Linked DNA regions of Homo sapiens: region 2 is linked to region 1. The links come from fine-mapping of genetic effects on gene expression. A gene starts in region 1. The other region holds a variant in brackets. All regions are shown on one strand. Distances are from middle to middle. Region 1 holds the start of BCHE (butyrylcholinesterase). Region 2 has its middle 170 kb from the start of BCHE.

The links. PIP is the estimated chance that this variant, and not a neighbour inherited with it, causes the effect.
Region 2: its variant is fine-mapped to the expression of BCHE in putamen (GTEx, PIP above 0.99). The same link has a PIP of 0.9 or more in nucleus accumbens and prefrontal cortex.

What each region holds. Positions count from the first base shown.
Region 1 is chr3:165,834,604-165,839,997 of GRCh38, forward strand. It overlaps BCHE (butyrylcholinesterase), which reads right to left and starts at 2,820. Exons shown (of 4, transcript NM_000055.4): 1 at 2,711-2,820. RefSeq lists an enhancer at 2,638-2,932.
Region 2 is chr3:166,001,666-166,007,059 of GRCh38, forward strand. No RefSeq gene overlaps it. Among named protein-coding and RNA genes, the nearest start is that of BCHE, 170 kb to the left of the region's middle. The variant T/A (reference allele first, on the strand shown) is at 2,971.

The sequences.
Region 1 (5,394 bases):
TATTCTAACATGCTACTCTGTAGTTTTGCCATTAAAAGACTTTAAAAATTTTGATATGTTTATCATGTAATTGAGCAATCGAAAGAGAAATAAATGAAAATAGAATAAAAATATTGAGTCTATATCTCAAAATTTTTATTAATGATTAGGATATTCAACAAAACATTATCGTTTTTCTTTTTTTTAATTTTATTATTATTATACTTTAAGTTTTAGGGTACATGTGCACAACGTGCAGGTTTGATCGTTTTTCTTTTAATAAATTCTGGTGCAATTGGATACTGTCTCACATGATTCTGAGAGAACATAGTAGCATAAACATTATCATAAAAATGGGGCACATTTTCACAAATACAGCTGTGTATCTGAATTTAGATCAATTTGCTTATCAAAATAGTATTTAATATTGGAAATAAAGACAGGAGTTTTTGTTTGGAATTCAGACCATTCTAGTTTTTGAGGAATTGAGTTTTTGAGGAATTTGAGTTTTTGAGGAACTGAGTTTTTGTTTGGAATTAAGAAAATTTACTGGCAATTTTTGAAAATGCTAAACTGTTATAACAATAACTTTCAAATAAAAAAGGTGACAAATCTTTTTTTGTATTTTTAATTCAATTTTGAAAGTACTATTAATATTCCCTAGCTGATTTTAACAAAAAATACTAAATGTTATACTATAAGATGTGAGTGTGATAAAATAATTTGTATAAAGAGCTATTTTTTGGGATACTTGAATATCAACCAGATTTTCAAAATAAGGGACAAGCCAAGAATTTTTAAAAGATGTTCAAGCAAATATTCAAAATATTTTCCCTGTGTATAATTTCCCTATCTTTTAAAAAGTTACAATTAAATAAATATTTATTTCTACTTGGAAATAAACCCTCTTAAAATGGTAGAGAAAGAGCCATCTAGATAATATTAATATGATCTAGAACAAGCTCTCTTAAATGTATTTGAAGAAATTGGAACAACGACGTCTTTATATCAAACTTAAAAAGCTTGTTTTGTTGCAGACTAAGTGAAGTGGGGAATTGAGGAAGTCTGATTATAAATAGACTACATCACTGTCTTTCAGGGATTCTTCAGCTATGCTTTAGGCATGTATACATATAGAAGACACTACATTAGATATAAGAAACTTAAGATGTTTTATCTGTCCTCAATTAGGAAGAACATTTGCAAACTTCATTGTGTGAATAATTTGAACATTTATTAGAGAGATTTCTTGAGTCTTCTCTGAAAATTAAATCTCCTCTTAGGTTGCTATCTATTCAATTACAATTCTCTTAACATCTGGGACCGTCTAATTTTGGTAAGAATGAGCAGATGCTGGCAAGAAACCATCGAAATGAAGATAATATTCAATGTAAATATATATTATACTTATCAAGAAATGACTCGAAGAAGGAACCAAATTTATAGATAAGATGTGACTTGTTTAGCTATTAGTAGCTTATGTTTTATAAAAATGAAATATGGAATACATCCCAAACATATTTTTACAATTAAAAAACTAGGACAATACAAACAAACAACAACAACAAAAAATTAGGAGAACAAAACAGAACTTTGATAACCCAATTAGAAATTTATTTGGCATCCAAAAGACTACTTTATTTTATATCCAGAGAAAATTCTGAAGATTTTTATTCAAATGTTAAAGTCACACTTTAAAAGCTCACGCTTATCCTTAAACAAAGTAACTACTTATATAAGTAAACTGTCATTGTATTTATTGTAACTATGAGATAGTTTATATTAAGGAAGGCATTACACAGACTAGTGACAGGAGCTCCTAATTGAGTTTATTATCATGAAATATATTCATAAAAATGTAGAAGACATACTCATAAAATAAAAATATATAATAAATAGAAATCATAAACAATGAAATCACATTTCAGTTTACTTTTAGTCATTCATAGATTTTATAATCCTTAATATTTAATTCCCTGGTTAAAGTGGAACTGATGTTATCAAAATAATAGTTTTACAAGATTATAGGATGAGCAGAAAGTACATTTGCTTACTATTTCTATAATAGTAAAATAATAGCAAATGTAAAATATTTTGCTACAATTTAAACAAACATATAAAAAGTGAACACAAAGGGCAAAGGGGACACGCTCATAAATCACTGTAAATCAAATTAGAAAACAGGTTTTGTTTTTATTTACATAAAATAAACAGACCTCTCATTTGCCAGTTGTTACTGTTAAAGTTTTAGGTGACAAAATGTTGATTGAGAAAAGTATTTTGTTCAGGAAAAAGTAAGTTAACTACTAACTTTATCCCATTTAAAAAGAAAAAAAAAGGAAGACTAATCAAAGATTACTTTTACAGAGAGATTCAATAAACAATGCATTTAAGGGTAAGCCAGTATGAAATGTTTTTTCTTAGGAAACTCACTAAGAATATATATCACAGTGATTCCACACGTGCTATGGTCCTTTATACAGAGTTGAATAAATTCATTATTTTCTCAGCAGTTAAATAAACAAAGTCTGCGTTCCCTGAATAATAGGAAGATTTGATGCATGTGCCTGCTGGCTCACTTCCTCTGTCCCATTTGCAAGCTTCAGTAACTGTTCCCCACAGAGCACCAAAGGGACACAACAAACACATGAAGAGATCACTCTCATCCCACAGAATGAGCTTTACAGTAACTTGGATCTCTACACGAAGGTGTAAATTCAGAGCAACTTACCCGATTCTCTGCAACAAAGATGGCAAAGTTTGCAAGGAGTGAAAATCATGTAATACTTCGGGGAAATGCAGGATGCAGCTGCTGCTCCAGCCTGTAAATTGGACTGCACTGACATTCAGTGTTACTGAATGTAACAATCAACTGTTACTGACAAAGCTCGCGAGAGTTGGCAGCAGCAACTTGAAATCTGTTCAGAGGCTAATGGTATAAATGCAATAGTGATTCATTTACAGAAGTATTACAGGATTCATGCTTTACAATTGCAGGTAGTCTTCTAAGAATGAAGAAAAAAAGCATAGAAGATTCTTTAACTAAAATAATCTGAAATGTAACAGAAAATGCATGTTTCTTTTAACTCTAAACTTTAAAAAAATTTTCCTTTTTTTAAGAATATACATATTTCCTATGCTTGTCTTAAGATTTAAAGACGTATACATCATTCTAAAGTAGTGCTATTATTGAAATCCATTATAGCTTCAATCTGTGCTAATTATATAGTTAGAGAAGATAGTAATATAGAAAATAAGAAACACAATGCTCTAGATATAAGCTATGCAAATCAAAAACTTAGTTCTATTAACTGAATGGATGTCTCTGATATGTATCTCCTTTCAACCCCCACACTTCAACACTTATTTAAGTCATACAAATTTCAGCATTGGTAATTTCCTATTCAGAAGACCCTGCAGGCAGTCATACATGATGAGAAGCCACAATTTTCTGGTCAAGACAGGAAAAATAAAATGAATAACCTTCACCAAACTCTATAAAAGAGACACATTTGTCAACTTGCAGTGCACATGCTCTGGAGAATATATTTATGTCTTTGGCGCTTATCTTTCTTGAAATGATGTTCAGGAAAATAATTTTTTAAAAAACCTTTGATAAACTCCTTAATCCCTATCTTCTCAATGCAATATATTCTTAATCTTCTGTAAGTGATAGCTTTCACTTTTGAATCTCTTACTTGTGGGCTTTCTATGGACTAAACAGAAGGCATGTATTAATATTTGCAGGTGAGCACTTTTTTGCCTTTTAATAGAGTGTTAAATTTTCAAACAAGCAAATATAATTAGCATTTGTTGTAATTCTACCTTATGCCAGTCATTATAATTGACAATTTATATTAAATATTTTATATTATTTCAGCAAATATGAGAGTTAATATTATTAACCACCTCATCAGATGAGAAAGCTAAGGTTTCTACAAATCAGAAGCTTACTATATTTCTTACCACTAGTAGCTGTTGGAAAACAGAATTTTAATCTGTATTATTCTGTTATTTTATGTCAACTGCTTCCAAGAGAATAACCATTTTGGTCTTTTAAAATTATCTTTTCTGTGAAAATTGCTACTTAGGCAGTGTTAATTCAATGATAAATATCATGATCACAATAATTTATAATGTATTTAGAATATAGTTTATGTAATAACAAGTTAGTTACACAAAAGGTACAGAATACATAATCTATCTGAAAAGGAGAAAAAGGAGGTGGAGCACAGTGGTTCATGACTGTAATCCCAACATTTTAGGAGGCCTAAGTGGGCGGATTGCTTCAGTCTGGGAGTTCAAGACAAGTCTGGACAACATAGCAAAACTCAATTTCTGCAAGAAAATGGGTCAGACATGGTGGTGCAAGCCTACATTCCCAGTTACTTGGGAGGTAGCTGAGGTAAGAGTATCACCTGAGCCTAGGAGGTCGAGGCTGCAAGCCACGATTGTGCCACTGCACTTCATCGTGGGTGACAGAGTGAGATCCTGTCTCAAAAAAAAATTAATCAATAAATCAATAAAAGCAGGAAAAGGCTTTTTAAATGGAAGTATATTGACAAATTTGCAATGGTTTTTATAGTGATGGCATTTCTGTTTAAAATATAGTAAATCTGATGTTCCACATGAGAGTTCATGGGTTCAATATACATGATTTTTAAAAATCCAAATGTCAAAATTCTTCTCTCCAACCCAAGTCCACTGCATTGTTTCCTGTGCTAGCATAAGGTCAGCCTATCAAACGCGGCAATTATTAAGGAATATTTTGTGACGTTAGTGAATTCAGCAAAGCATTTTACATGCTTCCTGCATCTACTCACTGCTAGGTAAAATATGTCACATATATACACATATTTCATTTTCATCTTTAAACAGGAAGCCAAACAATAAAATAATTGGTTTCAAGCAGATCTTTATCTTTAACGCATGTTTAAACTGGCTAACTAGCAACATCAACTGATTACACAAGTTGGCAATTTTTCTTCTTCTCAATGTCTTTACTTCAAAGAACCACCTTCTGTTACTGTCCCTGTAGTTCTTTTCCTCGCATGATTTCACAGCTATGCCACATTAGTTCATTCATTATTTTAGTGCACCTCTAAAGCATTTATTCTTCCTGTCTTGAGAGTTTCTTCCTTGTGGCTCAACTTACAGCAGCTGCTTTGCTTCTGTGGTGTCATCATTTTCTCACACTCATCCAGCGGAAGGATGTAGGTCACACACAGTGAGCTTGTTTCAGGGTTAGTAGGGAAGCACTATTCCATTACATCACAGCATGGATGGTTAATGATCCTGCTGTTAAATGTTGAGTATGCCTTGTAAGCGACACTGATGAAATACCACAAGACACTTGACACGGCATTAACACTGCGCACATTTTGCAACCATATATGCTGAAGCTTGGGCAGGACA
Region 2 (5,394 bases), 170 kb after region 1:
TCTAAGATCTATCTGTCTTCTGCACAGGGCAAATGGGAGAGTTGAATGGGGATGTGGTAGGAATCACCACCCTTGCGTCTTTCAAGTCCTTGATGGTGGCACTAATATCTGCAGTCTCTCCAGCAATGCAATATTGTTTTTGATTTACTATTTTTCTGGGCAGAGGCAGCTCTAATGGCTTCCATTTGGCCTTTCTCATCATAGTAGCCCTCACCTTACCAGTCAGGGAGCCAATATGGAGGTTCTGCCAGCTGCCAAGTATGTCTATGCCAACTATGCATTCTGACACTGGGGAAATGACCACAGGATGAGTCCAGGGACCCACTGGACACATTGTAAGTTGGATCTATGCTAAAACTCCAATAATTACCTGACCTACATAAGTTTCCGCTTTAACTGGAGGACCGCAGTGACATTTTGGGTCCCCTGGAATCAACGGCAGCTCAAACCCAGTGTCCAGCAGTCCTGAAATGGCTGATAATTTCCCTTTCCCCAATACAGAGTTACCTCAGTGAAAGGCCAAAGGTCTCCTTGGGGAAGGATGGGAGAAAGGTTCACGACATAAATTGTTGGTAATGTAGTGGGGTCCTTCCTCAAGGGGACCTGGCCTCCCCTTAATTCAGGGGGTTCTGGGTCTGTAAGCTAGCTCACATCTGGAAATTGATTGAGAGGCTTTGATTCTGTTTTCATAATTCAAATTAGTGTTTTGTCCATTCAACCTAGAAGTTTTCTGCTTATATAAATAAGTAGGAACACAGTAGGCTTCCTATCAATTTCACTTCTAGGAAAACTGTGATTAATTAGCCAATGCCAGAGCTCTACAGGAGTCAGGCTATTCTGATTGCCGCTTTGCCTCTGCTGTCTATTACGGTAGCTATGCTCACCATGTCTTTAAAGGTTGAGTGCCACCACTTGGCCCCTGCTACTTTGGGATCCAATTATTCCCATTGTATTTAAATTAATTGAGTGACTGTGGTTCCCACTGTTAGATCTGACATACAGAGAAGGGCAATTACAGGGCTCTTCAAAGATGCAGGTGCTGCCCTCACAAGTCATTTTGCAAGGTATTGGTCAAGGGTATATTTTCTGGATCCTACCAGCTGGGATGAGTAGGTCTAAAGTGATTAATCCACTCCACCATCCCAATCTCCCTAATTAATTTATATATGGGAGTTTATTAAGTATTAACTCATATGATCACAAGGTCCCACAATAGGCTATCTGCAGGCTGAGGAGCAAGAAAAGCCAGTCTGAGTTCTAAAACTGAAGAACTTGGAGACCAATGTTCAAGGTCAGGAAGCCATCCAACATGGGAGAAATATGTAGGCTGGGAGGCTAGGCCAGTCTCACTTTTTACATTTTTCTGCCTGCTTATATTCTAGCCATGCTGGCATCTGATTAGATTGTGCCCACCTAGATTAAGGTGGGTCTGCCTTTCCCGGCTCACTGACTCAAATGTTAATCTCTTTTGGCAACCCCTTCCCAGAAACACCCAAGATTAATAGGTTATATCATTCAATCCAACCAAGTTGACACTCAGTATTAACCATCACACTGGTTATTTACTCACCATTTTGTATTTTAAATGAACCTCTGTTTTGTGAGCGACTGTTGTTTATTTGTGTTCACTGATCTATGGCCTTCCATTGTGTAAATATTTCAAAATTTCTTTGTTGATTTGATAAATAATTGGCATATTTTTGATCTTTATCTTTTTTAAAACAAATAATGCTGTCCTTAGGCATTCTTGTACATCTGTTCTGTTAGGATATGTACAAGAACTTCTCTGAGATGTATGCTTAGGAACAAAATTAATGCATCGTATTTAAGCCTTCAACTTTACTATCCAATTCAATTTGGGATCCAAAGTCATTATCAGTGCTATCCTTGAGAAACCGTGCCTTTGATGTCCCTAGAAGGCTTTATTAATGAAGTAAGACTGGGTCTCTCATTCCTTCTCTCTCTCTCTCTCTGTCTATCTCTTAATATTTAGATATGTCCTCATCTACCTATTTGAAAAATTATAGGGATTTTTAAATATAAGATAGAAAAATAGAGGTTTAGGTATGGGTATACATTTTGGTATTATTTATATGTTAGTGTTAGGAGAATACATTTGTTAATTTAAATCAAGGCGTGAATGAGAACAAAAGGTAGATCTCAAAGATGCTATTACTTGGGTATAAAGATGTTTTATGTACTCTTAAGTTTCATTAAAGACCACTGCTTTATATGGCTTTATATCAAAGAGATGGTACCATAGTTGCTTGCCAGGTATCTATTTTACATCCATTCAAACACGCACAGACTGACAAATAAATATAGTTGATTAAATGGCAATTACTTATTTAAAAACAATAAAAACATCCTTGAGCAAATTTATAAAGAGTCTCTTCCTTCTGGCTGCTACATTTTAGTGGTAAGAATCACATCTAAAAAAATTAACATAGTTTTCAGTAAACTATGTACTTTGTTAGAAAACATAAGTTCTAATGGTAATAAATTGACATAACATGGTGAAGGGAATGGAGAGTGTAGGGGATGAAGTTTGGTTGGAATTTTAGAGAGTCATTGTCACCTTGAAAAGATAGCATTTGAGCAAAGGCTTGAAAAGGTGCAGCTTCTAGTTGCTCCAGCTAAAGGGATCAACAAGGAAGTGATTTGTCTGAGGATCTCCAAGGAGGCTTTATGGCTAGAGTAAAAGTAGGATGAGATACGGGACAGGCTTTGTCCTACAACACTCATTTTTTTTGTTTTAATATTTATTAATGTTTTCATGTTATTACCATCATTAATGCAGTGTGATTATTGTTATTTTTTGCTTTCTGCTCTAAGTCCTAGGTTTTTGTTGTCTTCTTTGCTCTAGTTACATAAAATGCATTTATTCAATTAAAAAATTCTAGAAATACAGAATCTGATCTTTCAGTGGTTATATTCAGCATTCTGTCTAGTGACATATATACTCATTTT[T/A]AAAAAAAATTGCTGAAACAAACTAGGTGGAAACATTTAAAGTTAGATGCTAGATTATAAACTTAAAAGTAGAAGTGCATCTATTTAAATGACTAGCCTCTCCCACTATTCACATTGAGAATCTAACAGAGTTGAGAGTTGGGGATGTGGAAGTACCTTTGGAGACTATTTTTCTCTAGGGCTTATGGATTGTGCTGTGAGTCTCAGAGGGGATGAGAACCAGAGAGAGGTGGCATTCTAATAGAACTTTAAATAAGAAAAATGATGCTCTGAAGAAACCATGTGGAGCTCTTCATTTGTGTTCCTCTGTACTTTAGCAGACATCTTAAAATATTGTCTGATTTACAACTGAGAAAGAGTGAGAGATGGTGGGGTAGTTTATCAAAGCAGAAAAAGGTGCCTTTTTGGCTGTTTTGTCTTTCTACAGTTTTTGGGCAAGGTATTGATAGCATTGTTTTTTTCTTTTTTTGGTCATGAGTCAACCCATGAAAGATATTCAAATATGTGTTACTTTAGATTTTGCGCAGGCTGAGGAACTAGATCTCAGCAGAGAGAAGTGGAAAGTATTCCTGGGAACTGAGAATAAATGACTATCCAGCAGGCATTTCCTCTCTACAGGACATTGCAGATGGGAGGTCTTCAGTACTGGAGAACTTTTCTCAGGACAACATGTTAGACTTAGCTATCTGCCAAGTTTGGGCTTGTCTGAGTGCATCATGGTAGTATTTCTGAAGTAAGATCTTTCTCAACTTCCTTTATCCTGTTGACCTAAAGAAATAAGCTGAGGATAAAATATAATTTTAAAGAGTTTACTTGAGCTAAAATGAGGAAAGCTGCCTGGGATATACTTCCTAGTTGCCTTGGTGAGTGCTCAATTGAGCCTTTGTTAGAAGCAAGTTTTTAAAGGCAAATGGGAATAAGGAGGTGGCTGATGCACAGTTATTCGACAGGAATTCTCATTGGCATACATAAATAAATAACATTGATTAGTAATTGACCATACATTGTTGAAATATAGGATATGAGTTATGGTGTTTGGTATATGGCATTGTAGGGCTACTGGATATCAATCACTCTAAAGCCAACATACCAAATGGCATCAAAGGGTAATTGTTTGGCCTAAGGGAGGAGAGAGATTTGACTGCTGTCACATTTCACTCTCTCTCTCTGGACCTGATAATTTAAAGGGGCTTGAATTCCTCAGATAAAAAGCTTATCTCCTTTCTCACTTTGTACCACTATTCCCTAACTCCAATTTCAAAGTGGCCAGAAACAGGTGTTACTTTTCTATGGAAGAGAAGAAATATTACGTAGAGGAAAGGAAGAGAAATCTGATCATAACTACACTTTCTTTTTCTTTTCTTTTTTAAAAAAAATATGTATACATATTTATTATACTTTAAGTTCTAGGGTACATGTGCACAACGTGCAGGTTTGTTACATATGTATACATGTGCCATGTTGGTGTGCTGCACCCATTAACTCGTCCTTTACATTAGGTATATCTCCTAATGCTATCCCTCCCCCCTCCCCCCACCCCACGACAGGCCTCAGTGTGTGATGTTCCCCTTCCTGTGTCCAAGTGTTCTCATTGTTCAATTCCCACCTATGAGTGAGAACATGCGATGTTTGGTTTTTTGTCCTTGTGATAGTTTGCTGAGAATGATGATTTCCAGCTTCATCCATGTCCCTAGAAAGGACATGAACTCATCCTTTTTTATGGCTGCATAGTATTCCATGGTGTATATGTGCCACATTTTCTTAATTCAGTCTATCGTTGTTGGACATTTGGGTTGGTTCCAAGTCTTTGCTATTGTGAATAGTGCCACAATAAACATATGTGTGCATGTGTCTTTATAGCAGCATGATTTATAATCCTTTGGGTGTATACCCAGTGGATATATACTGGGATGGCTGGGTCAAGTGGTATTTCTAGTTCTAGATCCCTGAGTAATCACCACAGTCTCTTCCACAATGGTTAAACTAGTTTACAGTCCCACCAACAGTGTATAAGTGTTCCTGTTTCTCCACATCCTCTCCAGCACCTGTTGTTTCCTGACTTTTTAATGATCGCCATTCTAACTGGTGTGAGATGGTATCTCATTGTGGTTTTGATTTGCATTTCTCTGATGGCCAGTGATGATGAGCATTTTTTTCATGTGTCTGTTGGCTGCATAAATGTCTTCTTTTGAGAAGTGTCTGTTCATATCCTTTGCCCACTTGTTGATGGAGTTGTTTGTTTTTTTCCTGTAAATTTGTTTGAGTTCTTTGTAGATTCTGGATATTCGCCCCTTGTCAGATGAGTAGATTGCAAAATTTTTCTCCCATTCTGTAGGCTGCCTGTTCACTCTGATGGTAGTTTCTTTTGCTGTGCAGAAGCTCCTTAGTTTAATTAGATCCCATTTGTCAATTTTGGCTTTTGTT